Regions from separate parts of the Homo sapiens genome. Here region 2 is linked to region 1. Evidence: fine-mapped expression QTL. Tissue or cell type: whole blood. Region 1 holds a variant in brackets; the other region holds the start of a gene. Each region is shown on its reference strand, or each on the opposite one. Region 1 overlaps TENM3 (teneurin transmembrane protein 3). Region 2 holds the start of KDM6A (lysine demethylase 6A).

Region 1 (16,767 bases):
GCTAAGATCACTGATGAATGTAGCTACACTAAACAGATTTTCAATGTAGATGAAAGAGCCTTAGACTGGAAGAAGATGCCATCTAGGGTTTTCATAGCTAGAGAGGAGAAGTCAAGGCCTGGCTTCAAAGCTTCCAGGGACAGGCTGACTCTGTTAGTGATGCAGCTGGTGACTTGAAGTTAAAGCCAATGCTTATTGACCATTCCTAGAATCCTAGGGCCCTTAAGAATTATGCTAATTCTACTCTGCCTGTGCTCTATAAATGGAACAACAAAGCCTGGATGACAGCACATCTGTTTACAACGTGGCTACTAAATATTTTAAGCCCACTGTTGAGACCTACTGCTCAGAGAAAAAGATTGCTTTCAAAATATTACTTCTCATTGACAATGTACCTAGTCCCCCAAGAGCTCTGATGGAGATGTGCGAGGAGGTTAATGTTTTCATGCCTGCAAACACAACATCCACTCTGCAGCCCATGGATCAAGGAGTAATTTCAAGTCATATTTAATTTAATTTCAACTTTCAAGTCGTATTTAAGAAGTACATTTTGTAAGGCTATCATAGATAGATAGTGATTTTCCTGTGATAGATCTGGGCAAAATCAATTAAAAACCTCCTGGAGGCTGGGCACGGTGGCTCACACCTGTAATCCCAGCACATTGGGAGGCTGAGGCGGGCGGATCACGAGGTCAGGAGATCGAGACCATCCTGGTTAACAGGGTGAAACCCCGTCTCTACAAAAAATACAAAAAATTTAGCCGGACATGGTGGCGGGCACCTGTAGTCCCAGCTACTCAGGAGGCTGAGGCAGGAGAATGGCATGAACCCGGGAGGCGGAGGTTGCAGTGAGCCAAGATGGCGCCACTGCACTCCAGCCTGGGCGACAGACAGAGACTCTGTCTCAAAAAAAAATAACACCTTCTGGAAAGGATTTAGCATTCTAGATGCTATTAAGAACATTTATGATTCATGGGAAGAGGTCAAAAGACTAACATTAGCAAGAGTTTGGAACTTAATTCCAACATTCATAGATGACTTTGAGGGTTCACACTTCAATGGCGGAAGTAACTGCAGATCTGGTGGAAATAGCAAGAAAACTAGAATTAGAAGTAGAGCCTGAAGATGTGACAATTGCTGCAATCTCATCATGAAACTTTAATGGACGAGGAGTTGTTCTTATGGATGAGCAAAGAAAGTGGGTATTTGAGATGGAATTTACTCCTGATGAAGAAGCTATGAACATTGTTGAAATAACAACAAAGGATTTAGACTATCATAAACTTAGTAGATAAAGCAGTGGCAAGGTTTGAGAGGGTTGACTCCGATTCTGAAAGATGTTCTACTGTGGGTAAAAAGATATCAAATAGCATCCCATCCTTCAGAGAAACCTTTCATGAAAAGAGTCAATCAATGTGGCAAACTTAATTATTGTCTTATTTTAAGAAATTGCCACAGACACTCCAACCTTCAGCAACCACCACCTTGATCAATCAGCTGCCGCCTACACTGAGGTAAGATCCTCCACCAGCAAAAAGATGATGACTTGATCAGATGATCGGTAGCATTTTTTAGCAATAAAATTTTTTAAATTAAGTTTGTACGTTGGTTTGTAGAAACCTATTGGCTGGGCACAGTGGCTCATGCCTGCAATCCCAGCACTTTGGGTGGCCGAGGCTGGTGGATCGCTTGAGTCCAAGAGTTTTAGACCAGCCTAGACGACATGTTGAAACCCTGTCTCTACAAAAAATACCAAAAAATTAGCCAGACTCGGTGGTGTGCACCTGTAGTCCCAGGCACTTGGGAAGCTGAGGTAGGAGGATCACCTGAGCCCAGGGAGATTGAGGCTGCAGTGAGCCGAGATTGGGCCACTGCACTCCAGCCTGGGTGACAGCTTTTGAGACCCTGTCTCAAAAAAAAAAGGAAATAATGCTATTGCACACTTAGTAGACTGCAGTATAGTGTAAACATAACTTTTATATGCACTGGTAAACCAAAAAATGTGTGTACCTCACTTTATTGTGATATCTGCTTTATTGTGGTGGTCTGGAACAAAATGTGCAATAGGTATGCCTGTATATGCTTTAAATGTGTCTATTTCATTAGCTCATTTAATTTATGGGAAATAGCCACCATATAATTTAACTGTCAGAGCCAGTACTCATTGAAATCAAAGTTACCATTTTTTTGTTTTGTTTTGTTTTGTTTTGTTTTGTTTTGAGATGGAGTCTTGCTCTGTTGCCCAGGCTAGAGTGCAGTGGTGTGATCTCGGCTCATTGTAACCTCCACCTCCCAGGTTCAAGTGATTCTCCTGCCTCAGCCTCCCAAGTAGCTGGGATTACAGGCGCCCGCCACCACACCCAGCTAATTTTTGTATTTTTAGTAGAGACAGGATTTCACCATCTTGGCCGGGCTGGTCTCGAACTCCTGACCTTGTGATCCACCTGCCTCAGTCTCCCAAAGTGCTGGGATTACAGGTGTGAGCCACCACACCTGGCCCAAATTTACCTTTTGTCAGAAAAAGTCTGACTTATTTTTTCAGTTCGAATAAATTAATCTACATTTTGTTAGAACCTCTCAGTTCTGAATCCCTGCTCTAGGTAGAGAGGTAGCAAGATAAAGCACAAATCCTTGTCCTAACCTTGACAACGGGAATAAATAAAGCATCATTACATTTCATGTTTCTTACCTTATTGCTGTGTTCTTGGTAGTCATGAAATTCTTCTGCAGTTGAAAAGCATTCTTTGTAGAACACTTGGACACAGGAAGGGGAACATCACACACCGGGGTCACACACCGGGGCCTATCATGGGGTGGGGGGAGTGGGGAGGGATAGCATTAGGAGATATACCTAATGTAAATGATGAGTTAATGGGTGCAGCACACCAATATGGCGCATGTATACATATGTAACAAACCTGCACGTTTTGCACGTGTACCCTAGAACTTAAAGTATAATAAATACATAAATACATTAATTAATTAATTAATTAATTAAAAAGAAAAGCATTCTTTGACAGTAGTTGGGGTGAGTGATAAGTTCATTAAAAAGGTTATCTCTCTTTCTTGATGTATTTGACTTCAAAGCATGCTAGTAGTCCTAAATACCCCATTGTTAACCCCACATTTTGCCCTTAATGGAACTATGTTAAGCAGGGAAAGTCGCTGAAGCCCTACCTTGGGTTTATGGTGTCTTCAATAAAAGAGGCTTCACCACCACAATACTTTTAATTTTGCCTTTTTTTGGCATACTGGAAGTTTTATGCTCCAAGACAATAAGTCATAGTAATATTTGGGTATGTGAGAGGTACGCCTTTCTTTTGTAAAGAAAGTCAACACATGAATGTTATTGAGGGTCTATTAATAGAAATTAATCTCCTACCCCGTTCCTTATTGAAAAGTTTTAATGTTTCCTAGGGATATGGCTACCCTTTTTTAAAGACCCCTGGACTAGATGACCCCCACGGGTACTAGAACTCGAAGATTCTGTGGTGTTATGATTAATTAGGTATTTTTTCGTTACGGGAGGAAAAAAATCATCACAATTGCTATCCCATTCAAGCACACTCCACCAATCTTGGATCTTTTGTTTTACAAATGAAGAACCCTCTTTTTCTGGAAAAGAACCACTGGTTAAATTACCTATATATGGGACTAACAGGATAAATAGATATACTTCGCGACACAACGATGTATTCACATATCATTTCTGTGAGAAAGATTTTAACCCCTCAAAATTAATTTGTGGAGAAAGAAACAAGGCAAGAATACCTAGCTTATTAAATGCCTTTGACATAGTGAAACCGGAAACCCTAGAAATCAGAACTTGGTTACCATTACCACAGCTAATCCTCTTGGGTAAACATAATGTTTTGGAAAAAAATTCTGAAATTGGCACCAGTTTATGAATTTATGTTTACCAGTTCTCAAAGCACAGGTATGCTATTAAAACTCAGAAAACCATTAATAGCAGCAATAGGGTCAACCCAAGAGAGTAGATTAAATTACATATGCTTCGGATAGTAGATGAAACTTGTTAATGACAATCAAGTATCATAGCCTTAGAAATGTATGAACTTGATGAATGAGTCTACATATAAACTATGTTCATATTAAAATATGATATGTATACTGACATCTTAGAGGGGAAGAGAACAGCTACTCTACTCAGTACTTTAAAATTAGTTTCATGTAGAAGTCAACCAAAAGACAAAAACTTATGAGGAACTTATGAATTATAACATAAAGAGTATTATATTATAATATCCATGTCACGTTTTTTTTGTTTTTGTTTTTGTGAGATGGAGTCTCACTCTGTTGCCCAGGCTGGAGTGCAGTGGCGCGATCTCGGCTCACTGCAAGCTCCGCCTCCCAGGTTCACGCCATTCTCCTGCCTCAGCCTCCCGAGTAGCTGGGACTACAGGCGCCCGCCACCACACCGGGCTAATTTTTTTGTATTCTTAGTAGAGACGGGGTTTCACTGTGTTATCCAGGATGGTCTCAATCTCCTGACCTCGTGATCCGCCCTCCTCAGCCTCCCAAATTGCTAGGATTACAGGCGTGAGCCACCACACCCGGCCTTCCATGTCAGTTTTTTAAGTTTTATCAATATAAAACTTATAAAAATAAGTATAAACTTTATGTCCTGACATTGTAAGTATATTCTCTAGGGTGGTTCAGTGACTTAATATATCTGATTTTATATGAAATAGACAAATTTAAAACTTAGTAATTTAAAATAATATTTTTGTTTTAATAAAAAGCAAAGATTTTATTGAGGATTATATACAACAGATGGTTTTGGAATTCTGCAGACCTTGATTTCAGTCTTGATGCCATCACTGACTTTGGCCACATCATTTACTTCTCTGAGCCTTAGTTTCCTCATCTCAAAATGATACCAACCTCTTGGGTGAAACTACCTGTCATATTGTAGGTTCTCAGTGAAGATTAGTTCCATTTCTCTCTCCCCTGAATCTTCTCAGTAAAAGCTCCTTCATGACAAATGTAGGTTCCTTTGCAGAAGCTTCCTAAATGAAAAGTAGAAATTGGTCTCAGATAATTAAAAATTTCTGAGTAAAGCAAGACGTCTGTTTAGCTAGAAAGCAAAATAATCTCTGGGTGGTAGCATTATACATATTTTTTCTCTCTTTATTTAACTGTATGTTCTAATTTTGCTGAAATGAACAAGTATTACTATTGTAAAATAAATACTTTGAATCCTATGAATGATCTACAGTTTATAATCTAAGAGTTGATGTGTGGAAAAATTATAGTGATTACTATAACTCAATTTGGAAATTTTATTCCTTAGATCCTTTTATATTACTGAATTGGTTCAAGAAAAATAGACCTGATAGCTACCATGATTGTGAACACTGGGAAAGAAGAGAGGAAGGGAGATTATAAATAATGCCTTTTTATTGAGTTTTCTAGTACAACCCTCTTCTGCCTCATACCTGGGTTATTGCAGCTGTGTCCTCACTCATCTCTTCATGTCCAGGCTTCCCACAGTTACTGCACAGTAATGCTCTTGAAACAGTGATTTCATTTCACCTCTAGCCCGCTCAGAACCTTTAATGGGTCTCCATTTAGTTATAGCTGTCCTTCACAACTGATGGTACGTGTGTCATGTAGGATGCAGTAGTCCAGATGGAAAGCAATTCTAACATTTGCTAGTGATGTACTCTCCCTCAAACCTCACATTTATCTGTAAGTGTGAATTTTTTGTGAATTGCTTCAGATCCTATAGGCCATAAACTGGGTCTGTGATTGCAGGTCATGTTCCGTAGTAATCTTCAATTCTGTTTCTCTTGATTATATACACACACCCCACCACCACACAAGAATAAGTGTGTTTGAGGCATCGAAATGCAATTTACCCATAATCAGTCTTCAAGTATCTGTTTGAAAAACATACCATAAATGACATGCACAGTAACAGAATACTAGTAAATATATACATCTTCAGGGAAAAGGGTGTAATAACACTCTTGATAGAGTGAAAATACAAGAAATCACTAGCATAAAGTATAAAGACCATATTCTTTAACCTGGTATTCAAGGCCCTCCACAGACAGATGCCACGTCCCTTCCCAACCTTATCCCGCATCCCTCCCACGACAAACCCATTCAGTACCTCCTGAGAGCCAGACGCTGCAGCTTGCCCTTGATGCACCAAACCTCATGGAATCCTTGTAACGGTGCAATCATTATGTTACTCTCCCCATTTTCTAAATGAGGTTTAGTATCTTCCTTAAGGTCACACAGCTAATTGTTGGCAGAGCCAGGATTCAAACCCAGGTTTGTCTGACTCCAAAACGGGTTTTCTTTATCTTGTTTTCTGGCCAGATGGATTTCTCTGCTGAGCCTCAACCTAACACCTGTCAAGTTCCACGGCCATGCTTGTGATAGCGATGTTTATCCCAGCTCAGAAACCTTATCCTACCTGTTCCTCAATGTTTACCACCAAACTTAACTCCTGTGAAATCTCTCAACCTCCAGCCTGCAGTGATAGTGCCTTTCTCTGACCCCTACTCATATGTTGCTTTAGGGTCTCACTTAATTTATCAGTTTGTGGGTGTTGTCTCCCCACCCAGGTAATTACTACTTGATAGCAGAAGCTATGGAAGTCTAGATAATCTCTAAGATTCTACTCTTTGGTTTATATTTCTTTTTTTAAGTCACCTACAGTGCTGCCGCTAGCAGACACTCAGTAAAAATGAACTCAGAGTTAAACTAATAACTCTTCACAGATAGTTAGAAGCCTGTCTCCCTTATCACTGAGATGAGATAGCTTACAGCTCAGACTTAAAATCACTTCCTCTGCGTTTTGAATTAACAGTTTAATATTTTTTTTAAAAAAGACAAAGTTGGTAGTAAGTCAACTTTGTTATCAGTTTTTTTTTAAGAGACGAGGTCTCACTGTGTTGCCCAGGCTGGACTTTAACTCCTGCGCTCAAGTGATCCTCACTCCTCACCCTC[T/C]TGTTGTTATCAGTGTAAAAGGGCTGAATTGATAGAAGATAATTTGCCCAGTTCCATTCTGTTCCTCAGCCTTCTGGACCCGTCTGCATAAGAGACAATGTAGTTATATTTCCACTCACGGCAAATTGCAGAAATTCTACCATGACCCCCATCAGAATAACTGAGAAAGAACCTTGGCAAAGAGGGAAAAGAGGAACATCGTACCAAAAAGAGGAGTCTTGGATCTGTTTTCTAGAAGGAGGCCATGCAGGAAGAGAAGAGATGGTGTCTCTTAACAGGTGGCAGAGATCCAGGGAGAAAAGAGGTTTTGTTCCTATGCATCAAAGATCAGTGTGGTCAGAAGTAACACAGTATGTCCACTAAGACTACAAGTGAGTTTGAAATGAGGCTCAAAAGAAAGAGGAAAAGTTATAACAGCCTACACAAAAGCTATGTGAGCACTTAAGCTTACCCCTCCTTCCTTTCCCCTCACAATGCCCCAAGTACCCCTTCTCTATCTCTCTGCCAACATCTGATGTTTTTCATTCATCCTAGTATATCATTTAGATAGAACCACATGAATCCGAGCCATCAGTTGGTTTTATTGTTTGCTTAAGGATTGATTTAGAAATCTCCATAATCCATTCTGCCTTAATTTACACTTTGCAGTGTTATAGTATGTTTAGAATGACTGATAAGTACCAGACCCTAATCTCTCCCAAGAAATAACAAGACTCATAATTTGTAAGATAATTATGTTTCAAGTGAACAGAAAGACTGTAGGTGTGAAAACAGCTTTAGTAATGGGCATACCTTGGGGGAAGTCAAAAGGATTTTAACTTAAATATCTTACGAGCTAAATCAGAATTAGTAAAACACCAGTATCTAATAGTAGAAGCTTTTAAAGTGCAAATTTTATGAAAGTAATATATCAGAAGATGAAATGGCTTGAGCATTTGGTAAAAATAACTTTTTCAAAAAGTTTAAAAACCTTTTTTGTTTTGTTTTTTTAAAAAAAATTTGTTCTTCATCAGTGCATCTCTTACATTCAGGAAAATTAGGTGGATTTACGCAAGAAAATAACACCATAGATTCCGGAGAACTTGATATTGGCCGAAGAGCAATTCAAGAGATTCCTCCCGGGATCTTCTGGAGATCACAGCTCTTCATTGATCAGCCACAGTTTCTTAAATTCAATATCTCTCTTCAGAAGGATGCATTGATTGGAGTATATGGCCGGAAAGGCTTACCGCCTTCCCATACTCAGGTAAGACTAGGCTTTCTTATCAATAAAATAAAAACTGCCAGTTGCATTTTTTGAAATTATTCTCTTTCTTAAGCTCAGCTGTTTGGTTAACTGTTTGACGACTTTTGAATCGACTTTCTACAGTAGAAAGAGTTTTGAATGTAGATTACTTGTTCTGAGGTTTTTGAATCAGTAGTGGGAAGAACAATATTTTCTTCCTGATTTGACTGTTTAAAATGTACTGAATTTTGTGAGGAACTTAATGAATATTGAGCATCATCTGAGCACCCAGTAAAACACCATGGATTTTCCAAGTGTTTTACAAAGATTCTATGATAATTTCCGATGATCTTATTCCTTTCATGTAATAGATGCATAACATATTCATCTCTAACACGTATTCATTCTGTTGAAAATGTATTTTTTTAGTTTATGCCAGATTTCCTCTTAGTAGAGAAATGATGGGAACATCAACATAAATATGATGACATGAGCTTTATCAACTCAGGCGCCGTGCCTCATCTAAAATGATCAACGCTGAGATGAAGAGGCAAGAGAGCTTTCAGAGATAACCAAGTATGATCATGTCAGTGTGGTACACAAGACAATTCACATATCCTTAATATCAAAGAACTTTAAAGTCGTTTCCCTTGCATAAAAATCCCCTCACAACAGCAATCACAGATGGAGAACTGCTGGCAATTCCACAGCCTTTTTCATAATCTAATACAGTACCGGGTCATAGTATGTAAACTGGAAATTGTCGCTTAATATAGGTTTCATCATCTCTAAGAGAAGTTATTTAAATTACCTACCATAAAATTGGAACTGAGACTTTCCCCAAGATCAACTATTACGTTAGTACATAGAGGAATATCAAAAATGTAAGAGTTGATTCATTAAAATTGACAGTAGGATGAGCCTAAAGTTATATTCAATAATCAGTTTATTTACCTAGAGAATTTCATGCTGATTTAGTGTGACTTATAAAATAAGGGCTGGAGAGTTTTCATGTATGCTTTATATCATATAATTTTGTGAGAAATATTTTTTCTATAACCTAGGAACATAAATTATGAAGAAAAGTTATCACATATTAATAAAGAAATTATATCTTTAAAGGAAGATGAGTAAGAAGATTTCAACATGCTTTTTCTAATGTAATTGTGGATTTAGTTCATATACATATATTAATTTTATGGCTGTGAAATTTCTGAATATCAGGCTTTAGTGTATTCATTTTTCCTATTTAATATTTTTAATATCTATATTATTAAAGTAAATTTGATCCTTATGCATTGTATACTTCTTATAATGTACTAATGCCCAATTTTAAATTTTATATTTTTGTTTGTTTGTTGGGGTTTTGGTTTTTGTTTGTTTTGTTTTTTGTTTGAGACAGGGTCTCACTCCGTCTTCCAGGCTGGAGTGCAATGGCACAATCTTACCTCACTGTAGCCTCAACCTCCTCGGCTCAGGTGATCCTTCCACCCCAGCCTCCTGGGTAGCTGGGACTACAGATGCGTGTCACCGCCCCCGGCTAATTTTTGTATTTTTTGTAGAGATGTGGTTTCACCATGTTGCCCAGGCTGCTCTTGAACTCCTGGGCTCAAGCAATCCGCCCACCTTCCCAAAGGACTGGGATTACAGGCATGAGCCACCGCGTCTGGGCTATTTTATTTTATTTTATTGTTTGAGATGGAGTTTTGCTCTTGTTGCCCAGGCTGGAGTGCGATGGCATGATCTCGGCTCGCCACAACCTCCGCCTCCCGGGTTCAAGTGATTCTCCAGCCTCAGCCTCCTGAGTAGCTGGGATTACAGGCGTGCACCACTATGCCCAGCTAATTTTGTATTTTTAGTAGACATAGGTTTTCTCCATGTTGGTCAGGCTGGTCCCGAACTCCCAACCTCAGGTGATCTGCCCTCCTCGGCCTCCCAAAGTGCTGGGATTACAGGCGTGAGCCACCGCACCCAGCCAGTCTAGACCATTTTAAAGTTTAGATTTGACTCCAGTTCATCTTATAGGTGACACTGACTAGGATATAATAACCAGATTTTCTTAAGGCTAGGCACAGTGACTTAGGCCTGTAATCCCAGCACCAGGAGGCCAAGGTGGGTGGATCACTTAAGGTCAGGAGTTCAAGACCGGCCTGACCAACATGGTGAAACCCCATCTCTACTAAAAATACAAAATTAGCCGAACGTGGTAGCGCACACCTGTAATCCCAGCTACTCAGGAGGCTGAGGCAGGAGAATTGCTTGAACCCTGGAGGCAAAGATTGCAGTAAGTGAGAGATCGTGACATTGCACTCCAGCCTGGACGACAGGAGCAAAACTCTGTCTAGGAGAAAAAAAAAAAAAGCAGATTTTCTTAAGTGGAAGTCCTCTATAACTTCAATTATAGTAGACAGATTGGATTTATAGCAATTGTCCAGTGAAATATGAAAAAATATTTTCCCACTGAAACCGCATATGTGATTATTTGTGTATAATTCAAGAAATATACCTCTAAGCTGAGCACAATAGTAAACATGTAACTTACAAATTCTAGAAAATAATTTCAGGTAAGAATTGTCTATTGTGTTGTGTACTTGAAAGGTTTATTTAAAGATTTAGTTGACTGCAAGTTGTATATAACATTTAAGATTAGAGAAATGAAAGGTGCAGTTTCGGGTTTTCTCATAATCCTTCTAGTATTTAAACACAATACATGTGATATCCTCTTTTCTTTTCTACCACAATATATGTGTTTAAGTAGGTTATGCATTTTCTTAAGCTTCACGGTTATTATAGTTTCTTCCTGTGGTTTATTCAAGATCAGCAGAGCAAACAACTGTTTCTGAGTTCAGTGTTTAAACATGAAATATTGTATAAGGCAGCCCAAATTGAACATTTCTCTGTTTCTGGAGAACATTAAATAAATCAACCTGAAATAATTAAAATTGGCCAGCCATTCAGAATAGTTGCTTGAGCTTTCGCAGTCTTTGTGACCCTTTGTAAAACTGCCCGTTTGATTGTTGCCAAGGAATCAGTGGGCTCTCTTCTCCCTGATGCCAGTTCATTCTCCTGGTCAGTTAGTGGCCTCAGGAGTCAATGCAGAGCCTTATGGTGAAGTATACTGTAGCATTTTAGTGCATTCACATGAAGGCTGTTGTCGAATAGGAGTTGGAAGCCTGAGTTCTAGCATACCCTCACCACCTTTTCACTGTGTGACCTTGCAGAGTCCCTTCTCTGAGCCTTAGTGTCCATTGGTAAAATGAAAGAGTTGGATCAGATGATCTGTAAAATCTCTTTAGTCTCTATATTCCAATTACAGCAAGACTGTGCCACTACCAAAGAGTTGATGTAAGGACACAGTTAAGTATTCATAGATTCTAAGAACTCATCGTTTTAGTAACGGAATTGAATTAAACATATAATCTAACTTCAGAAGTGAACTACCAAGATAACTGAAACAAAATCTATTTGTTTTTAAATGGTCTATTAGATAATCAGCATAAATACAACAAACATGGGCAAACTTTTCTTCTATTGATTTTCCAAAAGACGGCTTATTAATACATTGTAGTTTAAAGCAACTTTAAATGAGGATTTTTAAAGCGTGTATATTTGGTAATATTAAATCGTAAGAAAATGACCTTTAAACGGAGCTTTCACACTAAAATTATCTCACTTTATATGAAACCTGTATCAAGTATAAGCTTTGTCTCACGATGGCTCCCGCGGACTAGTGCAATTGAAGAGTTAGCCCCAAGAATTTCTTCCTAAAAAGAGCATAAGGTCCTAAGACTCCTCTTCTCCCCAAAAATATATCTGCATCTCCATCTTAGAAATATTACAAAGCAAAACTCACATTTGCCCTTAAGTGACCACTTTATGCCCTAAGAACAAAGATTATTAAGTATTTTTATTCCTTGTAATTTGGTAATTTTGGGCAAAGATGGTTTTAGTGTTAAAGTAGGGAACTTTTTTTAGGTATTTGAATCGCCCTCCTGAATTCATGTGCGAAACACTTCTGCAGATGAGCCTAGAACTGGGTAGATACTCAAAACCTGTCAGCTCCTCCTCCCCACCATCATGCCCACTACCCTGGCCTTATTTTATTGTTCACAGTGTGATGCGAATGGTTATTTCTATGATAAAGGTGATGGTTGTGCTTTTGCCTTGAAAGACCAGCTAAAACTCAAAATTCCTCCCGTTCACTTTTTCAGTTACCGTGTTTAATGTTAGGGAAGAAAAATGTTTATATGCTTCGGTCATAAAAAGAAACTTTTTCTTGTCTCTTTGCCATGCAAATGTGTAAATATTTAAACCTGATGAGGAAATGAATGGCTTATTTGAGACAGAGTCACCATTCAAAACTGCTGAATTAATTTTCCTCTGACAATTCTAGAATAGAATTCCAGTCAAATTTTATAGGTCATGTATCCACACCAGTCAGTATTTTCATCCTTATAAGGTATAAATGAAAATAAACATTTTTGACTGCTGATCAGGTTATACTGTTTTTATATATTTCTCACAGCTGAATTCTGTTCTGATGAAACTACACAAAAGAACAAAAAAAGGTTTTACTTATAAATAAAAATTTTAGTAAGTCAGAAACTGAATTAGATACTCTAAGTTCTCTCCAATATTAACAGTAGAGGTCTATGGTCAGTAAAATGGCAATATATTTAACTGTGATTCTCAGAAATTCCAACAACTGATTTTATTCCAGTTTGATTGGATTAAGAGATTCATATAATCTTTTTCTTAAATAGGCCTCTGATGAAATTCCATTTAAGAAACCTATCAGAAAGTAGAATATTTATGATTTATATATGCAGTAGTATAATAATAATTATTTATATATAGTACTATGGCATATGTTTCACCATAAACACACTTCAGGAATAGAATGAAACTAGGTAACATTCTATAGACACTGAATCACTCTACTTTTAACAATTGTAATCTAAAAAACTCCTTGAAACTACATTGGAAAGTCTTTTCAGTGTCTTTCAAATTCCCTGTATTATTTCTAGTTACAAAATTTTACCCCACTATATTAACAATCACATTTTATACTTTTAATTCTTTTTTAAACTCTCCAGTCACCAATGTTCATGTCTAATTTTACTACAACAAAACTTAGGTTTAATGATGACCCATTCATAAGAATAATCAGGCACGTTTACTGTTACTGCCATCCTTTCAGAACCCCTCCATTGTTTAACTGTTTAGATCAAAGATGTAAAGGCATCTTGTTACATGTTTCTAATCTAACAATAACTAAGTAAAGCCCATGGCGTTCTCCATGGTGCTTGAGATGGTCACATCAGGGTCACAAGAGAGGTGGAGTAGGGTGGGAGGAATGACCCCACTTGGAGCAAAGTGCTCTTGAGTTCACAAGCCAACCCCACCATTACCAGATGTCTGAGAGCCTGCTACCCTCCTCAAGATTCAGATTCCTTCACCTGTAAAGTGCAAATGTTAAAGCCTTCCTACGAGGGTTCCTATGAGGAACCAGCACGGAGTAAGGATTCAACAGTAGTTGTTGCTACATGAATGTTAAATCAGAGAAGACTGTACAGGGTTATCTTGTGGTCTAACTAAAACAAGGTTGCTGGCAACATGGATGGAACTGGAGCTCATTGTGTGAAGTGAAATAAGCCAGGCACAGAAAGTCAAATACTGCATGTTCTTGCTTATATGTGGGAGCTAAAAAAGTGAATGAGCAGAAAGAGGAGAATGATGGTTCTCAGCAAACTAACACAAGAACAGAAAACCAAACGCCGCATGTTCTCACTCATAAGTGGGAGTTGAACAGTGAGGACACATGGACACAGGGAGGGGAACATCACCCCAGGGCCTGTCAGGGTGTCAGGGGCTAGGGGAGGGATAGCATTAGGAGAAATACCTAATGTAGATGATGGATTGATGGGTGCAGCAAACCACCATGGCACGTGTATACCTATGTAACAAACCAGCACATTCTGCACATGTACCCCAGAACTTAAAATAAAATTTAAAAAAAAGAAAGAGTAGAATGATGGATACCAGAGGCCGGGAGGGCACTCAAAATACGTACGACTATTATATATCAATTATGAATTTAATGCATTAAAAATAAGCCTGCTGGATTGGAAATGTCAGTTCATGTAGATTTTATGTTTGTATCCCCAAACTGCCTAAACTCATCAAACTTTTGATCAGTCAGTAGAATTAAATAAATTTGGAAACCATATTGCCCAATAAGGGAAAAAAATGGTCCCTGATGTTTGAATCCAGCCCTGTGTGGCGAATAGTTTGCGTCCTCCTTGTAAATGCTATGCATGGGAGACTTCTACCATTTGGACCTGTCAGGAACTTCTTTCTAACATTGTATTTGTTAGAGCAAAGGAAGACAGATTGAAGAGAAAAAAAAAAAGAGAGAAGCAGCCACCCTTTATCTTTCTGACTATTTTTCCTCGTCCTCCCCCCAGTATGACTTCGTGGAGCTCCTGGATGGCAGCAGGCTGATTGCCAGAGAGCAGCGGAGCCTGCTTGAGACGGAGAGAGCCGGGCGGCAGGCGAGATCCGTCAGCCTTCATGAGGCCGGCTTTATCCAGTACTTGGATTCTGGAATCTGGCATCTGGCTTTTTATAATGATGGGAAAAATGCAGAGCAGGTGTCTTTTAATACCATTGTTATAGGTAAGAATAGTCTTCAAAGCAGCATTTTCCAGGCTATAGCCTAAACGCCGTGTTTAATAAAAACTAAATTATCTGTACCAATTTGGGGTAATTCCTAGGGTGTTAAAGCCCAGGTAAAATGTGAGAATTATTTTTAAACCTTTATTTGGGAATATGTGACAAACTGTGAAGCACTGGGAGAAAATATTTTCTGGAATTACCTTGGGAGAGGAGAATATGTCATGAAACACTTTGAAAATCTGCATTTGAAGTGACAGTGCTTTGCTTTACTACTCAAATTATCTAGCATAAATGAAGATCAAAGTGATACCGTTTATCTTTTGCAAGAGGCAGGCTATACAACAAGTGTTCCTTCTTTCCTTTTTCTTCAGAGTCTGTGGTGGAATGTCCCCGAAATTGCCATGGAAATGGAGAATGCGTTTCTGGAACTTGCCATTGTTTTCCAGGATTTCTGGGTCCGGATTGTTCAAGAGGTATGCAAGTTAGATTCTTCTCTTAAGCCGATATAAATAAGCTGTAGAAACACAAGTGATTCCAAAAACTACCGAGACAGGAAAGAAAGGGGGGGGGAGACTGGCATATTGCTTGTTCCAGCGATGTGTCTTTTCTTTCGGAAGCTCGGTGGAAAGTGTGGCTGTAATTCTTCTGTCGTGTCTTGTTTCACAGCCGCCTGTCCAGTGTTATGTAGTGGCAACGGGCAGTACTCCAAGGGCCGCTGCCTGTGTTTCAGCGGCTGGAAGGGCACCGAGTGTGATGTGCCGACTACCCAGTGTATTGACCCACAGTGTGGGGGTCGTGGGATTTGTATCATGGGCTCTTGTGCTTGCAACTCAGGATACAAAGGAGAAAGTTGTGAAGAAGGTAAACATGTCAATATTCACAGAAGTCTGTTGTTATCTTCATAAAGAAACAGATTGTATCTGTAATCTTTAGTTGGGCAGATCTCTTTTATACGCTTCCTTTTGAAAGCAATTTTGAAAAATCCATGTTTATGAATGCATTGTTTTACTAACATTTTAACTAATAAAAAGAACAAGCACCAAAGGGCCCCTTTGCTCTTTTTCAGCACTGTGAATCATTCCTTTTCTTCACTCTGAGAAAGCAAGCAAACCTTTATGCCTTGAAACTAACAGCGGACGGTTGATTTTATTTTTCTTTTTATAGTTTTTTACATTGATGCCAGCTTCTAAATCTAGCATTTTGACATCTCTAGAAAGACAGAGTAGTACACATAATATGCTACCTAAAAGAAGTATGACATCATGGATGTGTTCCATAGCTGTATACGTATAATGATGAGAGTCGAGATACCATACTGTAAAGTGCAGGTGAATTGTTTTTTCAGAAAGCAAAAAAGCACCATTTCCATTCTTCAATCAAATTGATTTTATTGATCTGCACACACAAAGTAATGCAATTAAGTCTCTGGAATTAAATTTTCAGGCCATTGACCCTACAAGTGTAAAGTTTTATTGAGTCAAATTGCTAAATTAAATCTCGTCATCTAAAGCACATTGAAGTGAATTAAGAAGGATAGAGAGTATGCAACTCATTTATTTCTCAAACAGTGTGAGGATCCCATACAGCTGTCAGTACTCAGTGGTCACAGATTTTGTTATAGAGAAGGCAATACTTATTACTCTGTGATTAGGCAGAACAGAGAGCAATAGTCTGAAACCTCAAGAGCCTGTGTGTGTAATTCAGGAAAATTACAAATCCTTGCAAGAGTCTCAATTACCTAAATGGCATTAGGCTGGATCTTAATGCTTTATTGTATTATAATTCTTTGCATTTTCAGAAACAAGTTCTTGAAAATGGTAGATAAATATTTGATTTTCCAAAATGTTCATATAAATTAGATTAGGATTTAATTCTTTTTT
Region 2 (16,767 bases), not on the chromosome of region 1:
ACTTTTTTATTTTTAGTAGAGACGGGGTTTCACCATGTTGGCCAGGATGGTCTCAATCTCTTGACCTCGTGATCCGCCCACCTTGGCCTCCCAAAGTGCTGGGATTACAGGCATGAGCCACCATGCCCAGCCCTCATTTTCATTTTTTATTTTTGTGAAGAAATTCTGCTGTGATGAAATATTCTGTTTTAAATTCTCTAATTGTTCTCACTGTTGCTGTTCTGTCAGTTGGGAATATTATGATGAGTGCTTAGTTTAATAATGTTGACATATATTGTATTCTTTTAGCAAAGCTATAGTGTTATGGCATAATAAATGCTTTGCCATGAAATTTAATAACAAAATAATCGTTAAAGGCATGACATCTGAAGTCCATATTTCTCTCTTTTCTTGTTTTAACATGATAAGTATGCACCAATTATTTATTTATTTATTTATTTATTTATTGAGACAGAGTTTTGCTCTTGTTGCCCAGGCTGGAGTGCAGTGGCACAATCTCGGCTGACTGCAACCTCTGCCTCCCGGGTTCAAGTGATTCTCCTGCCTCAGCCTCCAGAGTAGCTGGCACTACAGGAGCGTGCCACTACACCTGGCTAATTTTTGTATTTTTAGTAGAGACAGGGTTTCACCATATTGGCCAAGATGTTGTCCATCTCCTGACCTTGTGATCCGCCTGCCTCGGCCTCCCAAAGTGCTGGGGTTACAGGCATGAGCCACTGTGCCTGGCCTGCACTGGTAATTTTAAAAAGTCTCAGTGTTGTATGTAAGGCACTGGAAACACTGCCAAGTTGTAACAGTATCGTTGTGATTTGTAGGGAACCCAGCGGCAGGGCAAAATGATGTGAGTGCCATGTACATTTTCTGTTGCAACTATTCCATTCTATACTGTTGCACGAAAGCAGCCATAGATAATAGTTGAATAAGCATGACTGTGTTTCAATGAAACCTTTTTTATATGGAGACCAAAAACTGAATTTCATGTAGTTTTCATCTGAGATAAAATGGCTATATGAAAACAGGTAGTGGGCTGGATTTGACCTATAGAGTATAGTTTTCTGACGCTTGGTCTAGCAAAAGGGTCAGGCTGCCAGCCAGTTAGCCAGTATTCACTAAACTTGGTGCCAAGTGCAGAGCCCAGGTGAAAGCAAATCTGTTTACAGCAACAGCACTAACACCAAGAGCAACCCTACAATTATTATTTCTCTCTCTAAAATCTTTTAATAGTCCACTGTAAACTTTCGCATGATTCTTTAGCATTCCATTCTAGACTCTTCATGGTGCTGCCTAATTTTTCAGCCTCAACTCCTGATTTTTCCCTTATCCTCTTGGCCGCAACCACACTCAACTTCTTGAATTTATCAGAACTCCCATATTCTTAGCCTTCTGTGTGCTTGCAGGTATGTTGCTGCCTCTGCCTGGAATATAAACCTCCCTATACTCACTTTCCAGCTCCTACCAATCTATCTTTTTTTTTATTTTTTATTTTTTTGAGACGGAGTCTCGCTCTCGTCAACCAGGCTGGAGTGCAATGACGTGATCTCGGCTCACTGCAACCTCTGCCTCCCGGGTTCAAGCGATTCTCCTGCCTCCACCTCCCGAGCAGCTGGCGCCCGCCACCATGCCTGGCTAATTTTTGTATTTTTTTGTATTTTTATTTATTTTTTTTTATTTTGTAATTTTTTTGTATTTTTAGTAGAAACGGGGTTTCACCATGTTGGCCAGGCCAGTCTCAAACTCCTGACCTCAGGTGACCCACCAGCCTCAGCCTTCCAAAGTGCTGGGATTATAGGCGTGAGCCACTGCGCCTGGCCTATCTTCTAATCTCTAGGATACTTCCCTGGTCCCTCTAGGCTGACAAAGATGCCTCTTCTGTGTGCTCCCACAGAAATTTGGGCATAGGTCATGGCACTCATCACTCTGGATTATAGTATAGAATTTGTTTATACAACTCTCCAAGAAAGAGTAGCTTAATTACAAGGATGATGTGAATTTTGGACATTTTCAGCTATTATTTCTTGACGTACTTTTTTTGGCTATGCCTAATTTCTCCATTTCTCCTCTCCTTCTGTGACTTGATGACATAAGTGTTGTGTCTTTTGTTACAGTGCCACAGATCCTTGAGGCTCTATTTATTTATTTATTTTTCAGTCTATTCTCTCTCTGTTGTTCAGATTGGGTATGTCCTTTTTTTTTTTTTTTCTTTTTTTTTGAGACAGGTTCTCACTGTCACCCAGGCTGGAGTGCAATGGCCCAATCTCAACTCACTGCAACCTCTGCCTCCCGGGTTCAAGCGATTCTCCTGCGGCAGTCTCCTGAGTAGCTGGGATTACAGGTAGGTGCCACCATGCCCGGCTAATTTTTGTATTTTTAGTAGAGATGGGGTTTCACTATGTTGGCCAGGCTAGTCTTGAACTCCTGACCTCAGGTGATCTACCCGCCTTGGCCTCCCAGAGTGCTGGGTTTATAGGTGTGAGCCACCCTGCCCAGCCAGGTATTTCCTATTGTTCTGTCTTGAGGTTCATGGATTCTTTCCTCTGTTCCCACCATTCTGCTATTGAGCCCATATGTGAAGTTTATTTTGATCATTCTGTTTTTTTGTTCTAAAATTTTCGTTTGATTCCATGGGTGCAGTCTTTTGCTCCCCTATCAGCCACATGAGAATAGGCCTTGAGCCTGGAACACTTCCTTACCAAGGGATGGAGAGTTCTCACAGCCTGTACTAGACTTGTTACCTTGTGTGGGAATATCTGTCTTTGTTTCAGACTCAATGTGTGCTCCTTTGTTCTGCTTAAATATATGTGTCACGTGGCATCTGGGCCACACCACTAGTATATCTGTCCACTGCAGGGAGAGGATGAGATCTTTCTGCTGCAGCACAAGAGGAGTGTGTTGGCTGTTGGAGGGACCTGTTGGCCAGGGAGAACTAATGTCCACTACTGAAGCCGATCTTGCTGTGTGTCTTCTCTATGTGAGTAAAGTTATTCTACCCGGGGCTTGACTGAATTGTATTTTCCTTGGAGATCCTGGTACCAAGATGCAGTGGGCAGAAGTGCTTGGACATCTCCTCCTGACAATAGGGCCACAGATGCCACTTGCTCAACAATACTTTGTGTCTTTTTTTTTTTTTCTGAAACTTCTTCTTGCTCTTCTGAGGCCTTCTAGTTTTTTAGTTGTTTGTTTGCTATTATTTTTATTTTATTTTATTTTTTTTTTGAGACAGAATCTCAATCTGTAGTCTAGGCTGGAGTGCAATGGCGCGATCTTGGCTCACTGCAACCTCCGCCTCCCAGATTTAAGCAATTCTCCTGCCTCAGCCTCCCAAGTAGTAGCTGGGATTACAGGAGTGCGCTATCATGCGCAGCTAATTTTTGTATTTTTAGTAGAGACAGGGATTTACCATGTTGGCCAGGCTGGTCTCAATCTCCTGACCTCGGGTGATCCTTCTGCCTGGCCTCCCAAATTGCTGGGATTACAGGCGTGAGCCTCCATGCCTAGCCCTTGTTAGATAATTTAAACATGTGATTCACTTTAGTGTTTGCATCTGTTGACCTTTTCTCATTTGAAATTATCCTGGGTCTTGCTATGATGAGTAATTTTTTTATTGAAACCTGGATATTTTGGGCAGTGTTCTGAGACTCTAGATTTTTTTTTTTTTTTTTTTTTTTTGAGACAGAGCTTCACTCTGTTGCCCAGGCTGGAGTGCAATGGCACAGTCTTGGCTCACTGCAACCTCCGCCTCCGGGGTTCAAGCAATTCTCCTGCCTCAGCCTCCCAAGTAGCTGGGATTATAGGCATGTGCCACCATGCCCAGCTAATTTTTTTTGTATTCAGTAGAGATGAGGTTTTGTCATGTTGGTCAGGCTGGACTCCACCTCCTGACCTCAGCTGATCCACCCGCCTTCGCCTCCCAAAGTGCTGGGATTACAGGCATGAGCCACTGCGCCCGGCCAAGACTCTAGATCTTATTTAAATCTTGTATTTTAGCAGGCCTCCTCTGACATTGCTCTAGTGGGGGCAAAGGGGGCATTCTCTTGTTACTGCCAGGTGTGGGTGGAAGTCCAGCTTTCCCCCTCAATCTTGGTTGACAATGAGTGCAATGTCTCCTTGTTACTGCTTTGTGGGGATGGGAGTTCTCGCTCCCTACCAGGCCTAGATTGAGGCCTCCATTCACCCTAGCTGGGCAGTATAGGAGTCCCTCATTATTGTTCCCTACATTGCTCCCCCTCCACTGATACAATGGGGGGGGTGGTAGTATACCACTGGGCAGTGATGAAAGTTTTGACGACTCTGACATTAATTCAGCAGGGATGGGTACTGACCCCTCACAACTGCTGGGTGGAAGTCCAGGCTGCCTAGTGCAGTTGTGTGTGTGTGTTGGCGGGGGTGGGATGTGAGGTGCCTCATTACAGCCTGGTGAAGGTAGGAGTCCAGGCATCTTCTAGCAGTCCTAACTCTATTCTCACAACTGAAGTTTTCATAACAACTGAAAGTCCATTTATCCTTGGCTCCCTGTCTCTGCTCAAACCTAACCATATATCTATTTCTGTCATTTTTGTGTTCTGGCATCAGCTGGATAGTCTCTATGACAGTGGTAAGTATGGGAAGAACTGGTAAATTTTTTTGAACCTATGTTTGATCGTAACATTTACGTATAGTTCTATTGATAAGACTAGATAAACTATGACTCTGTTATGTGACTTTTTATTATCTGTAAAGGTTATATGGCACTAACATTATAAACACACTAAATATTCCTAAGTGCTTCAGGTTAAATATTTCGTTGTTTAAAAGAAAGTCACATTATTTTCCTATACTTAAATGGGTTCCTTCTCTAATTAGTTGATGGTACTTACATAAATATTAACATAATATTGCTACAAATTATGTACTTAGTCTGTAATCTGACTTAGCTAGATTTTATATAATTTTATAATATTGATTTATCTATACATATATTAGTCGTATTAATTTGCTAAATTCAGATTAAACTTTCCCCAGCTCCTGGTGTATTTAGAATTATGAAAAAGAATCAGTACTAAGTGATATAAGGATGAATGTTCTATTTTCTTTTTTTTTCTGAGATGGAGTCTTGCTCTGTTGCCGAGGCTGGAGTACAATGGCATGATCTTGGCTCACTGCAACCTCTGCTTCCCAGGTTCAAGCGATTCTCCTGCGTGAGCCTCCCAAGTAGCTGGGATTACAGGCATGTGCCACCATGCTTGGCTAAGTTTTGCATTTTTTTAGTAGAGATAGGGTTTCACCATGTTGGCCAGGCTGGTCTGGAGCTACTGACCTCAGGTGATCTGCCCACCTCAGCCTCCCAAAGTGCTGATATTACAGGCGTGAGCCACCGCACCCGGCTTATAAGGCCGAAGTTTAGAATAAATGAGAGATGTAGCAATACTGGGGTTATATGCCTCAAGTATAAAGTACTTAGGACTGCTTATGTGTTGGGCTTATAGTGAGGTTGTGGAGGGAGAAGGAGGAAGTGATGGGTAGAGTAATAATAAATTTAGAACCCAGATTGTGAAAGCAAGAAAAAATTTTGGAAATTCCAGCCTTCCTATTTTATTGAGATTTTTGAATCTATGTGTCTGGCACTTTACCTACCTTATGGCATCTAAAATAATGTTATAAAGTGGCTGTATTTTCTCTTTTTCACAGATGAGAGAACTGAAGCTCAAATTAGACTAACTTGTTGAAGTCTGCCTAGCTATCAAGTGGTAAAGGTAGGATCTGAACCTAGAGCTGTATGATTCCACAATTCATGCTCCTTTGGCTGCACTACTCTGCCTTCCGGTGGGGTTTTCAGATTCACTTTTCATGGAAATTTATTATAAAATCATTTATTGTATGTCCCTATTTCTCTCTCCAGTGAAATATGTAAACCTTATAGGCTCTATATCTATTTTACATACATTTGACAGATAACACACTATGTAACATGTGTATGATGTAAGGACTTATGTTACCATATGAAATTTGTCCCATGCTTGATGATAGATCCTTGTAGTTGTAATAGACATAGAGCACTGGCCTAGAGGATAGGTAATGTTCTCAAGGTCGCACAGCCTGTGTAGAGCAAGGATTCGAATCCAGGTCTGCCTCACTCCAACTCCCACCCATTGCATCCACTCCTTGCTGTTCTGCTATTACATAGTAATAGCGGGAAGAAAAGTGTTGAGGTGTGGAGAGTGGGTAGCCTTTTTTTTCTGAGACGGAGTCTCGCTCTGTCACCCAGGCTGGAGTGCAGTGGCGCGATCTCGGCTCACTGCAAGCTCCGCGCCATTCTCCTGCCTCAGCCTCCCGAGTAGCTGGGACTACAGGCGCCCACTACCACGCCCGGCTAATTTTTTGTATTTTTAGTAGAGACGGGGTTTCACCGTGGTCTCCATCTCCCGACCTCGTGATCCACCTGCCTCGGCCTCCCAAAGTGCTGGGATTACAGGCGTGAGCCAAAGCGCCTGGCTGCCTTTTTTTTTTTTTTTTTTTTTGAGACAGAGCCTCACTCTGTCCCCAGGTTGGAGTGCAGAGGTGCAATCATGGCTCACTGCAACCTCCACCTCCCGGGTTCAAGCGATTCTTCTGCCTCAGTCTCCCGAGTAGCTGGGACTACAGGCGAGCGCCACATGCTCGACTAATTTTGTTTTTTGTATTTTTAGTAGAGGTGGGGTTTCACCACATTGGCCAGGCTGCTCTCCAACTCCTGACCTCGTGATCCGCCCGCCTCGGCCTCCCTTTGCAGGCGTGAGCCACAGAGCCCGGCCGGGATTGAGTAGCCTTATAATCCTTGAAAAGGACCTGAGTCAGGAACTGCTAACTTCAGGGAGATAGTCAAATACCAGCAAAATGTCTATCTGTGCTTGTGCAAGTGTGTGTGTATGTGTGTGTGTGTGTGTGTGTGTATGAGAGAGTGTGCGAGCGAGTTACTGGGGTCAAAATTTCCTTGGCTTTAAATGTCACCATTTGTGACAAAGTTAACAATGTATTAATTTAGCCGTAGAAAAGATTTGGCCCTTTGTACACACTCATTCAAGCAAAATGGAGTATCATAAAGGGAAAGGTGTTTCAGAGGAAGTAATTAAACATGAACTATAATCTATACAAAACTACAGTTTGTTCGTCTAGTTACTAGTCTCAGGGGAACAATTTAAAACTGTGTGCAAAATCAGTTGGGATTCCCATAGCTTCCCGCTGAATACTGGTAGGAATTACTGGGTCAGCACTGAATTGTCTTCGTCATATTTTGAAATCCAAGTTTAAATATATAATTTTTATTGGTTACAGGTGGAAAACCTATTGAAAATATAAAAAACTCCGTTTATAAACAGAATCTTGTCCTTATATGTCTATCAATTTTTTCCTATCCCTGTTATAAGACATACAGCTTAGTAAATAAATTTGCCTTTTGAGAAGAGTAGTCGAAAGGCCTATTTTTTTTTCACCTATAGTAAAGATTAAAAGTCAGACTAAAGCCTTTCCCCTGCACCTGAGAGACAGAACAACAAAATGTTACTGTTGTCTAGGGGTTACAAACCTGCAGGTTTTGGGGGATAGAAAGGATTTCTTGGGCCACCAGCTGTGATGATTTAATTATGTCTTCTCTCAGGTCTGTCCACAAGCAGCCCCTACTTTTGTAAGAAGGCTCCACTGAAATCATGGCAATAGAACCCAACATTCTGCAGATCCCGCTTCACAATTTCTCATTGCTTTTTCTTGTAAGACTGTAATGAACTACTGATAAGACACAGGGTAAACACAGCACGAAAATCTGGCCCCAAAGTGCCGCCAACAGACAGACCTTTGGCGGTGGGGAGCCATGGTCGGCAAGCCAGGCCCCGCGGGCGACTCTTCATTCCCTCCGGCCTGGGGCGTATGGGCGGGGGTCAGGGGAGCCCTTCCCCCTTCACTTTCGGCGCGGGTGAGGTGATCGGGGCTGCCAGCGCAGGTCTGGCCTAGGGCGGCACCCGGACCGCGGGGCACGGGACCGGCAGCCGCTCCCCGAGCGCCCTCCTCGCGGAGGCCATTATTTCCAGCAGTGCCAAAAGTCTGAGCCTTCTTCGGAGGGCAGAGGTCGAGGGCCGTGCGCCGCCTCCCGGCTACGCGACCTGTACCAGGCCCTGTGGGGTCCCGGGACCCCTGGAGCGCGCGCGGGACGGCCGGAGCCGCGGTCTGGGCACATCCCAGAGCTCGCGGGCAGGCAAATGCCGTCCTTGGCGTCTTCGCCCGCCGCTCGCGCCCGCCGCGGGCGGTGCCGGACCTCGCCCTTCCCCACCACTCCCCTCCCCCTCCAGAGCCCGCCGCGGTTCCCGAGGTGACACGGCCCGGACCCTCCATTCTCTGCCCCAGTGTATTTAACCAGCACAACCTAACAGGAAGCTCCCTCTCGGTGACAACCCTTCCCCCGACAGACGCGCCCAGCAGCCAACCACCGGCTAGAATTGGCCTGCGTCCCGCTCCCATCTCGGTGGCGGCCTCGGTGGGCGGGGCTCGGGCAGCTAGCAAGTTAAGTGGAGCCACGGCTGACGTGAGTCAACAAAGGTCACGTGAGGCGTGCGGGCCGCGCCGATTGGTGGCGCCAGCCGGGCGGGGAGGGGGGGTCACGGCGGCGGCGTGGGGTTCGCTGTGTGACACAATTACAACAACTTTGTGCTGGTGCCGGGGAAGTTTGTGTCTCCAACGAATCCCCTCAGTGCTCCCCAGCCCCGCGCGCTCCGGCCGTTCCCGCCGTCCCCGCCTGTGGCTGCCCCCTGCCCAACCCCGCGATGTGACCCTACAGCCGAAAGCCGCCGCTGCCGACCCGGGGGCTCCGCAGCCCCTGCCGCCGCCGCCGCCGCCTTCACCGCCGCCGCGTTGGGATTTTTCGTCGCCGCCGCCCGCGGCGGAGGAGGAGGCGGCGATAAAGTTGGTGTGCTGGTCCCGCGCGCAGATTGGGGGCGTCACTGCGGGCCCCGGTCCGAGGGGGGGTGTCGGCGTTGGAGTTGTGAATTCGCTGCGTTTCCATGAAATCCTGCGGAGTGTCGCTCGCTACCGCCGCCGCTGCCGCCGCCGCTTTCGGTGATGAGGAAAAGAAAATGGCGGCGGGAAAAGCGAGCGGCGAGAGCGAGGAGGCGTCCCCCAGCCTGACAGCCGAGGAGAGGGAGGCGCTCGGCGGACTGGACAGGTACGGGCCGCCGTCACTCGCCCGGTCGGCTCCGGACGGGCAGTAGCCGCTCTCCCGGGAGGACCGAGCGCGGCTTGTCTCTGGCGGCGGCGGGGCGGGCACCTCGGTTTGGCGCTCTTCGCGCCGCCTCCGCTGGGGCCTCGGGCTCGGGCAGGGACGGGTCGGTGGCGTTCCCTGAGCGTTAACGAGTAAACTGTGTCTGTCTCCACAGCCGCCTCTTTGGGTTCGTGAGATTTCATGAAGATGGCGCCAGGACGAAGGCCCTACTGGGCAAGGTAAGGCAGCTGCGAGTCGGAGCGCGGACACCGTCTCCCTGGCCGGCGCCGCGCTCGCCCCGGGCCCCGCGGCCGGGTCTGTGCTCATTGTGGCCACGGACGATGGTCGAGGGGCTTCCGGAAACTATTTCCTGCCTCTGCTCTCCCCCCACCCCCGGGTACCCTGCTTGCTCCCTTGCGAAATCGCTCTTTTCCTCTTGTAGCTGGAGGAACAGAGACGGGATCGCTTTGGGGCCGGGCTCAACTGGGTCGACACAACTGCCTGCTATTTTACAGCTTTTTGAGGGTAGGCCGATGATCTTCGAGGTGCCTGTTTAGGGTCAAGGGATCGTGAGTGTGTTCAGATTTTCCCAAATTTCGGACTTAACTTGCCTCTACGGGTTTAAAAAAATTCTTTTCCTTCAAGCAGGCTGTTCGTGATGCCTACTGCTAACCAAATGTTTTAGGCTTTCTTGTGTCCCCGCTCCCAGAAGGGGGAAGTTTCACGGAGTTTAGGTCGGTGAAGAGTTTGCATTGGGCTGTTGACATGTATCTCGATTGCAGTGTGTGTTACCTGAAGTTAGGTGACTTGTTTACTTTTTGGGTCTTTTTGGCATAGAAATACCGTAGTTATTTGTAAACGTGTTCTCTTCCTGGAGCCTCATTTCCTGTGTGTCTGACAGGGGAGGCTGGGGAGGATTCGGGGTGTAGTCTTTTTTTATTTGTGTGGAAAGTTGTTGGCACTGTCATTTAGTTAAGTAATGGCTGCTCCTATCGGCCCAAGATGGCGGGACAGGGTGGGAGGAGAAAGTGAAGGGGGGGGTTAGGGGGAGGGTGTAGAGGTAAACATGGAAATAAATAGTAGCCGTGAATAAGCCTTTCCTTCGGAGTGTGTAGCTCAGTGGTGTTTAAAAAAAATTACCCAAGATTATTTGCATATAGAATTCTTATACCTTTCATAAGCTTGGAAGCAGCATGCATAAGCCTGGTAAATGCTTATCAACCTGTAGCACATTTAGTTATCCATCTGTAAGCTATTGAACAAAGGCTGGAGTCTCAATCTGTATGCATCAGTTTATATTTCCTGACCAAAATCTGATTGCAATGGTATTTGAATACTTTCTTCGTAATTGGGACCGTGAAAGTTGGAGTGTGTGCTATGGGTGTTGTATCCGTTAGACATTTTCTTTTCTAGCTGAAATCATAGCTTTGCATTTGACACCTAGCTTTATTGTTGCAGTTGAGACGCAAGTTTGAAATAAGTCTAACATTTTATTCTTAAGTTGATTTTTTTGTTGTTCTGAATTTTTGTCTGTAGCTTGGTTTCGCAGAGTCATCAATTCCTTTTTATCTGTAATTACACATTTGTTTTTATTTCAAAGTAATTATAAGGTGTTATATTGCATATAATCAGAAAACTAAATGGAAATAATGCTTTTCAGTAAGCCCGGCCCCTTTGACCGATACAGAAAACTTGAATTAAACTTTGACTACGTAGGTATTAATTGGCTTCATTACAATTATTGCTGTAAAAATGAACAGTGACTAGCTCTGGAAAGATTTAAGCGTCAGTAATTGTTGGTCTCCTGCCTTAAAGTTTTTTTTTTTTTTTCCAATTTGAGTATTTAAAGTATTTTATTTAAAAATATTTGACTGCTGTCAAAGTTGTCATTATAAAAGATTAAACATGATTTAAATTAAAAGAGCATTATTTTGTTTTGGAGGGATTATTGTTGGTCTAACATGGGTTAATAAAATTGCTTGCAAAGATAATTCACGTGGAAAAGTTTGGCCAAATCGATTGCTTTTGGTTATGGTGATGAAAAAATAAATGGAATCTGATGTTTTATGTTGAGAATGTGTAAAATGCTAGTTGATTTTATGTCTTAGAATGCTCATATTCATATAGATTCACTGCGAATAGTGCTTAACATTGGATTTCGGATTGTAATATTAAACCCTGCAGTTATGCACTAACGAGTTTAAATTTTAAAAAAGTAACCATTTTCAAATATTCTTGGCAAGTTGTGCATTACTTGATGTTTGAATACATCTTAAAAATGAAAAACTAGTGAAGCTTCACTATGTTTGGGGCCTTCATGATATATGGGGTAATTTGATGAACGATTAAGCAGTTTGTTAAACTAAAGAAAAAAAAATCTTCACTGCTTCAGACTCAGTGCTTGTGAGGTGTCCTACCTGCTTAGGACAAGATTCATCAGCCTTAACATTAAAATAAAACCTTCTGTAATATGTGCTTGCAACCGCATATAGTTCTTGGTTGCATCTTTGTGAGCCTGAACATACCAGTGGGGTGTGTAATGTAAAGCCTGACATTATATAACTTCGCACCCTCTGTTTGAATTGGGTTCTGAATGAAGTGAATGAGCTGGAGTCCTGCTGTAGGAAGTCTTGAATTATTTAGTTTCATCCTTCTTTTAACAGTCCTCGAAGCAGTATTTTTTTGTTTTTTATTTTTATTTTTTGTGGAATGTTGAGCTATGTTGGTTTCAGAATTCTTATTCCCTGAAAGTCTTAAGAGTTGGCTTTCCTTTACTGGGCAGGTTTAGGCTACTTACCTGAGGGCAGATAATGGAATTGAATAACTCCCAGAATTCCCTTTTTAGCTTTGATTTTTGTCCTGCCATGCCCCCCCACCCCCAACCCCCCGGCCCCAATTTAGTCTGCACTTTGTATAACGTTTTCCTTTCTGGCAGAAATTTAGCTATTACTACTTGTTTTCAAAAATTCTTATTCCTATGTATATTATTGGATTTTCTTTCAAGTTTTTAAAATTCACATTTGTATGTTAAAAAAAACTCTTGACCTAAAAGCTTTAGAAAGTTGAAAGCATTAAATATGTCTCTTACTTGTCCCTTAACATATGTACGTATACATATATACACACGTGTACATATACATATATACACACGTATACATATACGTATACACACATATACATATACGCATATACACACGTATACGTATATACGCACGTATATGAATACGTATATACACGTATACGCATACGTATATACACACGTATACGTGTATACATATATACATGTATATACATACGTATGTATATGCGTATACACATATATGTATATATATGCATATGCGTATGTATACGTATGTACATATCTATATGTGTATTCCTTTTCCAGGTGTGCAGTTTATTCAAACCACTGATTTCTCATCGTCTCCCGAATGTTTTTGTCAGATTCAGTTATATTAGAGTCATTGAAAGAATTTTTTGTTTGTAGGATGGCCATTTGATATACAATGCCTGGGGTTTTGGATTAAAAAAATAAGGTAGTTAATACAATGTATTATTTTTTGGTAATGTCTTTAAGGTTGTAAACAGCTAGAGCCTGCGTAATTAGAGTTCTTGTGATATAGGGTGATCTTGAACAGTGCTCTTGAATGCTGACCCTTAATCTTCTGGTAATGTAATAATTCAAGATTCTTATTTTTAAAATTTCAGTGGAGTTATCGAAAACTAAGCAAAATATTTTAACAGAAATTAACTTGTGACTTTTTTAGTACATTTTTGAAAACCTTTTGGGTTTTTTTTTTTTTAAGTAGGGTAAGGATTTGAGTTAAAGTAGAATATATACGAATATATACCATAAATGTAGTAAGTTTAAATATAGTAGTACTACCAAGTATAGTTATAGTAATAATGCTAGGGGACTGGGGAATCTTATCTGCGTCAGGGAACTATTGCTAAAATACACAGTTTTGAACAAAGTATCTTATTTTTAAGTTTTTCTTAAATACTCTTATTGGAAATTTTTTTGGTAATTCTATTAGTAGAAAGATTATACAAAATACTTAGAAGTTATAGATTGTATATCACTTAAAAATGTATGTGCTTTTTTCCGTAGGACATATTAGCATTAAAACAGTTGGTGTTTTAAATTTTTTTGATAATAGAAGTAGTTTAAGATCCATTGAAACATATTTTCTTAAATTTGGTTTGCTGGCGTGTTTGGTAGGGGAAATTATTAGGTCAGTTCTAGAGGTGGCTTTTTTAAATTGTAATATTTGGATGTTGATTAAAAACATTCTCATTTATGTGTGTTTTTTGTTTGCTGGCACTTAAAGGCATACAGGTTGAGTATCCTTTATCCAAAATGCTTGGAACCAGATGTGTTTTGGATTTGGGATTTTTTTGGGTTTCAGAATATTTGCAGAATACATACCAGTTGAGCATCCCTAATCTGAAAATCTGAATTCCAAAATGCTCCAATGAGCATTTCCTTTGAGTGTCATGTTGGTACCCAAAAAGTTTTAGATTTTGGATTTTCAGATTAGGGATGCTCAACCTGTAAATTCATTTCCAGTGCTAAAGATGGCTAGTGTTTTGGTTAGAAAAGTCATGAGAGCCTGTCTCAAAAAACAAAAACAAACAAAAAAAGAAAGTAGCCATGGAAATAATGTCATGCTTTGTGTTTTAAAGAGTTTTCTAGTTTGGAAGATTGTCTTCTGAACACTTGCAGTCTTAATTTTTTACGTGGACAAAGTCTTATATACTTGGTATTTCCTAAAGTTTTGATTTGTGCCTGGTAATAAAGATATACTAAGATTATAGAACATATTTGCATATTTGGTCACAAATTAGAACTGCAGCAATACATAAACAGGCACTTTTAAAGTTCTGGTTTTCTTTTTCAGTAAATAGTTCTTTCTGTCGAATCAATTACAAATTGAAATAACTAGAGAGCATTTGACTGCCACCTCTAGATACTTTTTGTTTTTTTTTTTAATTTGAGACAGTCTCACACTATCCCCCAGGCTGGAGTGCAGTAGAGTGATCTCGGCTCACTGCAACCTCGGTCTTCCAGGTTCAAGTGATTCTTATGCCTCAGCCTCTTGCGTAGCTGGGATTACAGGTGCCTGCCACCACACCCGGCTAATTTTTGTGTTTTTATTAGAGGTGGGGTTTCACCGTGTTGGCCAGACTGGTCTCAAACTCCTGACCTCACGTGATCAGCCCACCATGGCCTCCTAAAGTGCTGGCTTTGCAGGTGTGAGCCGCCGCACCTGGCCAATATCTTAAGCTGTTAAGAAAAACTGCCTGAGAGATGAATTTTTGTGACTTAGGTGAAGTGATAGGTCATGCACTTTAAACCAAAATGAAAGTTCATTGCTTGGCTAGCTGCAGAGTAAGTCTTTTTCTGACTTAAATTATGTAACATTTAGTTTTTGTTTACATAGTACCAATATTCTGCATCTTTGAAAGGATTTCTGTTAAGTTTATTTTTACTTTGAAATTCATTGTGATGCGTTGAACTCTTTGAAATTGATGTTAATGACTGCTAACACTGCATTATTAATAATATTTTTGAAATGTGTTATCTAGAGAGCTAATTTATGTTAAGAAAACACTACCAGCTTGTCTAAGAATTGAAATGGTGGTTAGGCTGTTTAGGACTCACATGTATTATTTGTAGATTAGTTAATTAATAAAGTTTATTTAATGAATGCATAATTGACAGTCTTAAGTACTCATATTGAAACTTCACATATAATTTTATCAGTTTTCCACATTGGTTTGTAAATTATCGTGACAGTAAATTAAAACAGTATATTAATGTACACTATGTGCAAGCCTTCTATGTAGATAGTATGAAGATAGCATAGATATTTCTTGCCCGTGTTGAACTTAAATTCTTTAAGAGGGGTGAGATAAGTTTAAGGGTGACTAACACAGGACCATCTTTGGGAGAAGAAAAATGTGAAATATTCTGAAAGTTTATGAGAAAGGTAAATTTAACAATTCACAAGTTAGAATGGCTCTTAAAGATGGGGATTGTTTGTTGATTGTGTTTCTTGGAGATGGTATTTCTTGATTTAGATGTTAGCAAGGCATCTTATAATTTTGTTTAGGAAAACATGATTTAAAAATCACATTTTAAGGCTGGGTGTGGTGGCTCACACCTGTAGTCCCAGCACTTTGGGAGGCTGAGGTGGGCGGATCACTTGAGGTCAGGAGTTTGAGACCAGCCTGACCAATATGGTGAAACCACGTCTCTACTAAAAATATAAAAATTAGCCGGGCGTGGTGGCGTGCACCTGTAGTCCCAGCTACTTGGGAGGCTGAGACAGGAGAATTGCTTGAACCTGGGAGGCAGAGGTTGCAGTGAGCTGAGATGGTGCCACTGCACTCCAGCCTGGGCGACAGAGCGAGACTTCATCTCAAAAAAAAAAAAAAAAAATCACATTTTAGCTTTTAGCAGATGTTCAAAGGATGATCTGCTGTGTGTTCTGTCCTTCTTTGATTTCATTTTGTAGTAATATTTACCTTGTTATGAGTTCTTAACTTGAGATTCTTAAATGAGTGTTCATGGGTCAATTTAAATTCTCTGACAGAGTTTGGAAGGACACTCAGGATGACTTAATGGTCATCTTGGAGTACAAGACACTTTTGGGGTGAGAAGGAGGGGAGATTTTAAACTGTTTTATAGATTTCTGTACTGCTTTTTTTTTTTTTTTTAACACCGTAGACATATATTACCTTAAAAATAATACAATAAGGCCAGGCGTGGTGGCTCGTGCCTGTAATCCCAGCACTTTGGGAGACTGAGGCGGATGGATCAACTGAGGTCAGGAGTTCGAGACCAGCCTGGCCAAAGTGGCAAAACCTCATCTCCACTAAAAACACAAAAAATTAGCCAGGCGTGGTGGTGGGCGCCTGTAATCCCAGCTACTTGGGAGGCTGAGGCAGGAGAATTGTTTGAACCAAGGAGGCGGAGGTTGCAGTGAGCCGAGATCGCGCCACTGCACTCCAGCCTGGGCAACAGAGCATGTCTCCATCTCAAACAAACAAACAAAAAAAAGTACTCTGATAGTACACCAGAATGTTATATTTTGGTTGACTAAAAATGGGTTTAAACTACCATGTCTATAGTTAGAAGAGATACTTGTAAAGGCCTTTCTTGCATTTTAATTACAGTCTGAAGTTGGGATACTTTTGAACTTGATGTTCCTTCAGTGAGGGTAGGAGTGAATGGAGTAGAGATGTACCCAATTAGGTCCTATTTCTTTGTGTTTTAGATGGCTTTGTGACAGTCACTGCGCTCATTCTTCATTTTGATCTTTAGCATTTCATTGCTGACTTTATTTTGAGTCTGATTTGGCACAGGCTGATACTTGGGACCTGATTAAGAACTGTAACCTGGGCCGGGCGCGGTGGCGCATGCCTGTAATCCCAGCACTTTGGGAGGCCGAGGCGGGCATCACGAGGTCAGGAGCTCGAGACCAGCCTGGCTAACATGGTGAAACCCCGTCTCTACTAAAAATACAAAAATTATCTGGGTGTGATGGCGCGTACCTGTAATCCCA

What was found. PIP is the estimated chance that this variant, and not a neighbour inherited with it, causes the effect.
Region 2: it holds the start of KDM6A, and the variant in region 1 is the best candidate, but not a certain one, in a credible set for the expression of KDM6A in whole blood (TOPMed, PIP 0.88).

What each region holds. Positions count from the first base shown.
Region 1 is chr4:182,664,990-182,681,756 of GRCh38, forward strand. TENM3 (teneurin transmembrane protein 3) reads left to right here. Exons shown (of 28, transcript NM_001080477.4): 7 at 8,016-8,230; 8 at 14,677-14,887; 9 at 15,259-15,360; 10 at 15,554-15,748. Among named protein-coding and RNA genes, the nearest start is that of DCTD, 240 kb to the right of the region's middle. The variant T/C (reference allele first, on the strand shown) is at 6,985.
Region 2 is chrX:44,864,550-44,881,316 of GRCh38, forward strand. KDM6A (lysine demethylase 6A) reads left to right here and starts at 8,639. Exons shown (of 30, transcript NM_001291415.2): 1 at 8,639-9,163; 2 at 9,375-9,438. The coding sequence starts at 9,003. It overlaps LOC105373190 (a long non-coding RNA gene), which reads left to right and starts at 2,314. Exons shown (of 3, transcript XR_949040.2): 1 at 2,314-2,332; 2 at 2,848-2,968; 3 at 5,665-5,754. RefSeq lists silencers at 7,829-8,328, 8,579-8,808, 9,149-9,408, 9,449-9,528, 9,539-9,638 and 1 more.